Regions from separate parts of the Homo sapiens genome. Here region 1 is linked to region 2. Evidence: fine-mapped expression QTL. A gene starts in region 2. The other region holds a variant in brackets. All regions are shown on one strand. Distances are from middle to middle.

Region 1 (4,540 bases), 6.4 kb after region 2:
ATAAAATAATAATACTTACATCAGAAAGTTAATGAGAAGATTAAATCAAGAACCATATTAAAAACCCCTAATGGTGTGCCTAATTGGGAAGTTGAGGAACAATTAAAGTTTCTTTCTTCTTGCTTTCCTCTGCCATTCTCATCTGAAAGGTTAGACATCTTCTGTACAGCCTGGAAGTATAGAGCAATGCCAGTAGCAGTGGACTGGTTTTGACTCAAGACAAGGAAAGACACTTCTAATGGGTTGACTGAGGCAAGGGGTCCAAGCCCAGGCCCAGATGCCTCCTGAAGAGAAGACTCAAGCATCAGAAGAGTGGCTGGACATGACATTTAAGGTCTCTTTCTACCTGAGTTTCTGAACTAGTATTTGGAGCTTCTTTTCTTACGATTAAGCACTGGGAACAGCTTCAGAGGACCCAGAAGTACAATTAGGAAGTGTGATGACACAGGGAGCACCCAGCGCAGCAGCAATTTGTCCAGAGCATTCACAGTGATTCTTAGGAAAAGTCAGGGATGGAATCCAGTGCTAGATTTCACACGTCGAGGTACTCTGCTGGTGTTCTGATGATCCTCCTCACCAAAGGCACCTTCAGGTTTTGTGAGGCATGAGGCTTATACAATTATGGGAGCCCTCTTTAAGAAGAAGAATGCAAAATTGCAAATACAAAATTAGGCATGAAAGCGAATATTTACTTAGAATGAGAAATTATATCATGACAAATTACAGGAGTGCTGGAGAATTAGTTCCTTTTCTTCTGAGATCCCTTTAAGCAATTTACCCAAAATGCTGACATAGAAATGTTTCCTGATTGTAACCCAGCTTCCTCTCTCCACCTGGAACTCTATCACTCTTAGCAACCCAGGCTCTCACAGGGGCCGTGCATGGGAAAGGACCTGTAACTCAGGTCCTTTATTTATTAAACTTTATTCATTTTATGATAGATCTTCTCTTGTAACCAAGTATTTTTGAAATATAATTTTATTCTTTTATTTTTAATTGATACATAATAATTATATATACATATGGGGTACAAGTGATATTTCCATACCTGTATACGATGTTTAATGATCAAATAAGTGTATTTAGCATATCCATCATCTCAAACATTTATCATTTGTGTTGAGAACATTCAAATTCCTCTCTTCTAGCTGCTTTGAAAAACACAATAAATTTTTATTAACGATAGTCATCCTACTGTGCAATGGAACACTAGAGCTTATCTAACTGTAACTATTCTTATTTTTTATTTTTTTGAGATGGGGTTTCAAAAATGTTTAAGCCTGTCACCCAGCCTGGAGTACAGTGTGTGATCATGGCTCACTGCAGCCTGGACCTTCCCAGGCTCGGGTGATCCTCCCACCTCAGCCACCTGAGTAGTTGGGACTACAGGCACTTGCCACCATGCTTGGCTAATTTTTTAAATTTTTGTACAGATGGGGTTTTGCTAGGTTGCCCAGGCTGGTCTCAAACTCCTGGGCTCATGCCATCTGCCCACCTCAGCCACCTGAAGTTCTAGGATTATAGGTGTGAGCCACTATGCCCAGACCACAACTGCTATCTTGCTCTTATCTAACTTCCTCCTGCCTAACTGTAACTTTGTACCCTTTCACCAACTTCTCCCCATTCCCCACCCCACCCTTCCCAGCCTCTGGTAACCACTAGTCTACTCTACTTCCAGCAACTTCCAGTTGCTGTGGGTGGACTCGTGTCACTCACGTCCCCCTGACAAGCCCATGGCTACATCCCCTTACCTTTTACTTTTTGGATTCCACATATGAGTGAGATAATGCGGTTATTTGTCTTTCTGTGCCTGGTTTATTTCATTTAACATAATGCCCCCCCCAGGCTCATTCATGTTACTGCAAATGACAGGTTTCATTCTTTTTTATGGCTGAATAATATTCCATTGTGTATATATACCACATGTTCTTTATCCATTCATCTGTTGGTGGACACTTAAGCAGATTGCATATCTTGGCTATTGTTAATCACCCAGCTGAATAATTTTACAATCATGTTTATTACACAAGCAATGTTGTAAGAGTGTTAATGGAAAACAAAAGAATAAAAAGGTGGAGAGGGAACTCTCATAATCCCATAATTTCAACCAACCATTTGTTTCTTTTTTCCATATTTCTTTTTCAGCCCATGCTTCTACATGCACAATTTAAGTACTTGAAAACATGGCAAAGATATAATTTCCTACT[C/A]TTTTTCGCTTAACATGCCATCATTTCCCTATGGCTCTCTGCTGTCTTAATCAGTGTGATATTTCAAGGCTGTATGATAATTCACTCTCCTGCCATTGTGATAAATTCATATTACACAAACAAGAATTATAAAGATGGGATCTGAATTTTAGCCTGACTATAGACGTTCTAACCACACACACACACACACACACACACACACAAATGCAAAGGAAAGAAAGACCATAGCAACATTGTAATTCACAGAGGTGTAAATAATCTGTCAATTTAAATAGAAGAATCAGTCAAACTCATTATTAGGTGTGGACAGATAAAGAAACTATCAGCAGGTTGGATTTCCACTTTTCAACTAATTTCTTCGGTTAAGAAATTGAAACTCCAGTGAGGATGACCCTTCTCATGGGGTTATGAAGAGGAATAAATAGAGATTGTCATGTGACTGGATACTACAGTGGATGGACATTTTTTCCTCTCTAAGGAGTATTTATTTCTTAATGGAAAGTATTTCTACTGGAGCCATACCATGCAAATTCTATGGCAATAATTCAATTATGCCGATTAGAATGCAAATTATTCCATAAAACACTATGAAGACCCTCCCTCTGAGAAACTTCTGAACAAAACATTTCAATAGTGCTCAGTAGCTTTCCCTTCCTGGGTGGAAATTACAAGTCGAGTACAATATGATTCATAACTTCATGGAACAGTTGCTGTGGGTGGACTAGTGTCACTCACGTCCCCCTGACAAGCCCATGGCTACACCCCCTTACCTTTTACTTTCTCAACTTCTCAGTGGGATGCAGCAACCAAACCACCCTGTAGGGTTTTGACTTTTTAAAACTCCAGTATAAAAGACAGGCTGTAAAGACGTGGCAACAGCATCCAAAACTCCTATTCTAAATTCTCTGTGTGTCATATCAGGCAGCAAGCTCAGAGTTTGAAATGTCTCTTCTGTGGTTTGGAACTGTTTCCACAGTCTACCAAATTTATAAGCAAAGGTGATTACAGCTCATCACAACTCACTTACAGCATTATACCAAGATGGACATAAGCTATTAAAACTACAGCTAAGTCATTTTTAGGATGAAGGTGCACACTAACGGGCATGACTCACCTTATTTTGGGATTCCTAATATAACAAAGGTTGTTGCAAAGGTTCCCTCTTGGGTTTTTAAATCTGCAGCTCTCATGTTCTCCTATTAAGGACAGGACCTGAGAGCACTGGAGTAGAGGCTGCGTGCAGGGCCAGTTCTGAAAGCACAGTCTCTGTTTTAGCTGGAGGTATCTCGGATCCTATGTTGTGACGATGTCAAGGTTTAGACACTCCCTAATCCTCAACCTGTAACACCCCCTCAGACTTTATGGCTTCGATTCCTTGCAATGAAAAACAGAAATTGGGGAGCAACTACAAATAACTGATTCCACACGGTCTCCTCATGTATCGATCTTCCTTCTGCATCAGGGACTCACCTGGCGTCGCAGGGATGGTGATGATCAAAGGGCTTCTTCCCGGCAAAGACAAAAATGTGTACAATTATTTTTTTCCTTTAATTTTATAAAAGACAACGTGTATGTGAACCAAAACTAGGGAATGACATTCTGACCAGCCAATTTTCTCACTGAAGCTTTTGTAAAATGAAATTTTCTTTGCTTCCTATTTTTATGCTGTCTTCTAGTGTGGCTGGCACGGGTAACAATCATACTTGGCACTTCTGTCGTGCTTTTCATCCAAAGATTTCAAAGTGCTCCACACAGGATTTCATCCTCACGACAGGGCTGGGAGGAAGGTCAGTTCTGTTATGCCTAGTGAGCAGATAGGATGCAGAGCAGAGACATGACTCATACGTGGGCCCTGCAAACCTTCAGTGACAGAAACAGGTTAGAGCCCAAGCTTCCTAATTCCTAACTCTGTCTGCTGTTCACTTGTCTCAGCTGATATGGCCTTTTCTTCTAAGGGCTGAACATTAGGCCCAGCATGACATATTATGAACAGCTTGTTAAGTGTCTGACCCCAAGGAGAAATGAGAAGCCCAAATAAAAATGGGTTTGATTTGTTTCTGAGAACTCCTTTTCAGTCTTTAAGAACTTGTACCAATAAGCCTTAAAAGTGAGTGCAACTCTACTGGGTGAAAAATGGCTACCAGATTTCAATACTTGAAAATATCAAAGTATTGGCAAGAAAGTCAAGCAACAGGAATCTTATATTCTACAGTTGGGAATGTAATTAGTACAGCCATTCAGGAAAACAATTTAGCAATGGCTTGTAAAGTTGAACATGTACATCCACTTCAACCCAGCAATGCCACTCACACATAATATACATAATAAGAATA
Region 2 (4,219 bases):
CACTTTGATTTTTCTCTTTGCTTCTCTCTCCTATCTGACCCCCCTTTTCCTGAACACTTGCTGCCCCCTATTTCTCTTTTCTTCACTTTTGCTTTACTTCTTTTGCTGCCCCATTCCGTGGGAGACCCTATCTCTGTTTCTTCAGGTGGCCCTGTGGGTGTGAAAGAACAAACTTCTGGGCAGGCATACACCAGTGGTACACCAGCGGTACACAGGAAGACACCCCTCCCAGGAAACAATACCTCTGCCTCTGACACTTCCGGGAGCCTTGTAGCCACAGGAATCAACACATGTCTCTGCAACACTTCAAATTAACTCAGGCCTCAACAAGGCAGAGAGGGGTGTAGCCATACAGGCATGATCAGGGCCAGCTTATCACCATTCACTGGGAGACTGGCTGGAATGTGGATGTGCCGAGTGAAAAGTCAAATGTCTGCCTAATAGCAGAGCCCTCCACTCTGAAACACAAATGGCCCACTACATTCCTCACTCATAATTTTTAAAAATTTTTTAAAAAAATCTTTTACCCTAATGTCCAGTAGGCTATTGAACACTAGCTATCAATTTTTTGCCCTATGCCCTACAGTTAAAAATAAATGGCCAGGCAGGGTGGCTCACACCTGTAATCCCAGCACTTTGGGAGGCTGAGGCGGGCAGATCACAAGGTCAGGAGATCGAGACCATCCTGGCCAACATGGTGAAACCCCGTCTCTACTAAAAATACAAAAATTAGCTGGGTATGGTGGCATGCCTGTAGTTCCAGCTACTTAGGAGGCTGAGGCAGGAGAATTGCTTGAACCCGGGAGACAGGTTGCAGTGAGCTGAGATCATGCCACTGCACTCCAGCCTGGGTGACAGAACGAGACTCCATCACAAAATAAACAAATAAATAAATGTGTGTGCATAAATATGTACACACATATACATATGTATATTTTATATACACAAGTATTTGTATATCTAAAACCAGTTTCACAAAACAGTACCCTCATTACATGCATAGCTCAAATTTTTTAATTTCTTTATAATCTAGTTATCTTAATAACTTTTTAAAATGCTGGTTTTGACCTAGAGATTTTTAACCTTGTGTGTGTGTGTATATGTGTTTGTGTGTGTGTGTGTATCTGTTTGTGTGTATGTGTGTGTGTGTATGCATGTGTGCACGTGCCATTTCTACCCCATGTGATGAAGCCTATGGATCCTTTCTTGTAGTGTTTTTAAATGCATAAAGCAAAACTCTTAGGCTTACAAAGGAAATCAATGATATTGAAATACAATTCTATCCTTGGGCCTCTTGTGGGGAAAGGGCAGTGTCCACAGACCCAGGTTAAGAATCTCTGCATGGGTAAATTGATTTCCCAGCTGACTGCTGAGCCACAACCTGCAGTTTGGAAAATAAGGCTGTACAAAGCCTCAGAACATTTTGTTGTAGTTAAGTATTTCAGATGCTTATTATCCTGTCACGGTTTTAACCCTCTTTTCCCTCCCTTTCCCCATGCTCCCTCTATCCAGTCACCCACACCCCACCACATGCACATGCATGTGTACTCACTTACATGCATGCACATATATGTTGCCACATATCCACATACACATAGGCACACACATGCACAGGCACACACATGCAGATCTTAGGTCACATATCTGGAATGAGATGAGGCACTAGACCACTGGGTCCAGCCCCTCCTGTGACCCCAGTCCCACTCCCTGACTGCCTCTGTGTCACAGCTCCTCTGGCTCCTGCCTCAGAACTACTCTAGTGGCTCATTATCTCTGCAGGGCAGCGCTCACCATCACGACTTTCTTGTTTTCTTTCACAGCATTGTGAGCCAATAGGTGCATTCTGCCTCAGAATAGTGGTGGAGACTGGTGGTGGCACAGCCCAGAGCTCTTGACGTTTATTTTCTCAGGCTTCAGTGAACCTTCTGTGGCAGGTGTTTCCTTTTGATAGGCGGCAGTTCCTCCCTGGGTCACTCCAGCCTGCAGCTGAAGCCCTCACTTAGCTCACTGTGGCTGTACTGAACACACCACCTCCCAACATGGAGCAGCCTAGCCAGGGGGTGCGGGAAGGAAAGATGGTTGCTGCCACAAATGAATGACTCAGCTACCTTCTCCAATGGTTTGATATTGACGTTTCCTCCTGTCATAGCAAAAATGCCCAGGTGAACTGTTTTCTCCATCGCATGTAGAAAGATGATGGTTGTCTGAACTGGTTCCAGGTAATGGACAGTGGTAAGCGCTCCCTTCTCTTATAGTATGTTATGGATTGAAGTGTGTCTCCCCACAAAAAGATATTACTGGAGTCCTAACCCTGAATATTTCAGAATGTGACCTTATTTGGAGATAGTGTGTTTACTGAGGTAATCAAATTTAAATGAGGTCATTACAGTCTCTAATCCAATAAGACTAGTGTCTTATAACAGAAACGAACGCTTACAGAGGGAAGACAATGTAAAGAGACACATGGAGAAGATGGCTGTATTTCCATTCTCATGCTGCTATAAGGACATACCCAAGACTGGGTAATTTATAAAGGCAAGAGGTTTAATTAACTCACAGTTCAGCATGGCTGGGGAGGCCTCAGGAAACTTAGAATCACGGCAGAAGGGGAAGCAAACACGTCCTTCTTCAAGTGGTGGCAGGAAGAGAACTGAGTGAGTAAAATGAGGAAAGTCCCCTTATCAGATCTCCTGAGAACTCACTCACTTTCACGAGAACAGCGTGAAGGTAACTGCCCCCATGATTCAATTACCTCCCCCGGGTCCCTTCCATGACACGTGGAGATTATGGGAACTACAATTCAAGATGGGGTTTGGGTGAGGACACAGCCAAACCATATCAACAGCCATCTGTAAGCCAAGGAGAGAGGCCTGGAACAGATACTTCCCTCGCAGCTCCCAGAAGGAGCCAATCCTGCCGACACCTTGATTTCAGACTTCTGGCCTCCAGATTGTGAGACAAGAACAGCAACTCGGCCTGTGTTCTCTGCCCTTGAGGTTGAAACAGGGAGCAGAAGGTTTTTTTTCCCCTCTGTGTTGCAGCATGGAGTTCTGAATGACAGATGAGGGGTTGATCACCCTCCACACCCATGCTAAGCCTTATGGCTTCACGGGGTTCAGGCTTCCTGTGTTCAGTCTTCTGTGTTGCCAGAAAAATTTGCATACTCCCATGGACAAAGAAAGCAGCAGAGGAGAAAGAAGAGCTTTCATTCACTTCCTCTTTGGGGTGAGAGCAAGTCTGAATGCTCTAGAATTGATTCTATTAGAAAAACTCTCTGACCCCAAATATGAATATTTTCACCACACCCAATACTCATAATTTTAAAAATAGATCTTTTGAGTTTCATCCTGACTAGTAACCTAAAGATCACTGACTTCTGATTTATTTTTTTATCATGCTCTACAGTTAGAAATGCAAACATATAGACTAGAGAGGGCCACAGAGGTGTTTGATCCCATCACTTCATGTAGGTAGGAAGATGTTGAACCCCTGAGAGGGGTCGGAACTTGTCCAAGATCACACAGCAGGCAGAGTACATCAGGACCTCAAACCCATATCTTCTGCCCTCTCCTCCTAAGGTCTCCATCACTAACACCCTGTCACGGTCCATCCTGCTAAGGAAGTCTCTACTATAAAATCCCATACCTTGAAAATTAATTGTTTTTCCACTCACACGTTACCACCCTTCCCTCCTGCAAACATTTGGAAGTTGAAAGGTCGCACAGCCTTCATGAAATTAACCAGAAGAATTGAAAGGAAGCTGATGACAAAAGTACTTCAAAATCTGTTTTTCATGAAAACAGCTTTTTCTTTTCCCCCTCAGATCAAACTGAATTTTTCTTTTTATTTTTGCGGTATTCTTCTAATTGTGCCTTTTTAAATGTGTTTGAAATAGTTCTTTGTTTCTGTAGATTAATCACCTTTCAATGCTCTCCTTTTTTAAAAAAAACAAAATTTTAAAACTTTTAAATAAAATTTTCATTTGTTAACTCTCAGTCCTTCTCCTTTATCATAATTCACTTTTCCTATCATGTTCAGTGAATTATACAATTAATTACTTTTTCAGCTTGCAAATGGTTTGCTATTGTATATGTCATGTTTTCTTTTGGATGAGAAAACACTTATTTCACACAATAGTGCCATTGCTTTTATTATTCTTCCTGTCACTGAGAGGGGGGAAAGACCAAGAACCAAACAATAAGACTTTTATTTACAGCTA

Evidence for each region. PIP is the estimated chance that this variant, and not a neighbour inherited with it, causes the effect.
Region 1: its variant is the best candidate, but not a certain one, in a credible set for the expression of LINC01215 in whole blood (TOPMed, PIP 0.56).

The regions. Positions count from the first base shown.
Region 1 is chr3:108,116,952-108,121,491 of GRCh38, reverse strand. It overlaps LOC105374031 (a long non-coding RNA gene), which reads right to left. Exons shown (of 8, transcript XR_007095997.1): 5 at 3,322-4,010; 6 at 1,049-1,148; 7 at 386-632. Among named protein-coding and RNA genes, the nearest start is that of LINC01215, 5.8 kb to the left of the region's middle. The variant C/A (reference allele first, on the strand shown) is at 2,208.
Region 2 is chr3:108,123,481-108,127,699 of GRCh38, reverse strand. It overlaps LINC01215 (long intergenic non-protein coding RNA 1215), which reads right to left and starts at 2,636. Exons shown (of 2, transcript NR_110030.1): 1 at 2,558-2,636. RefSeq lists enhancers at 1,624-1,723, 2,224-2,303, 2,524-2,573, 2,854-2,993, 3,064-3,113 and 2 more.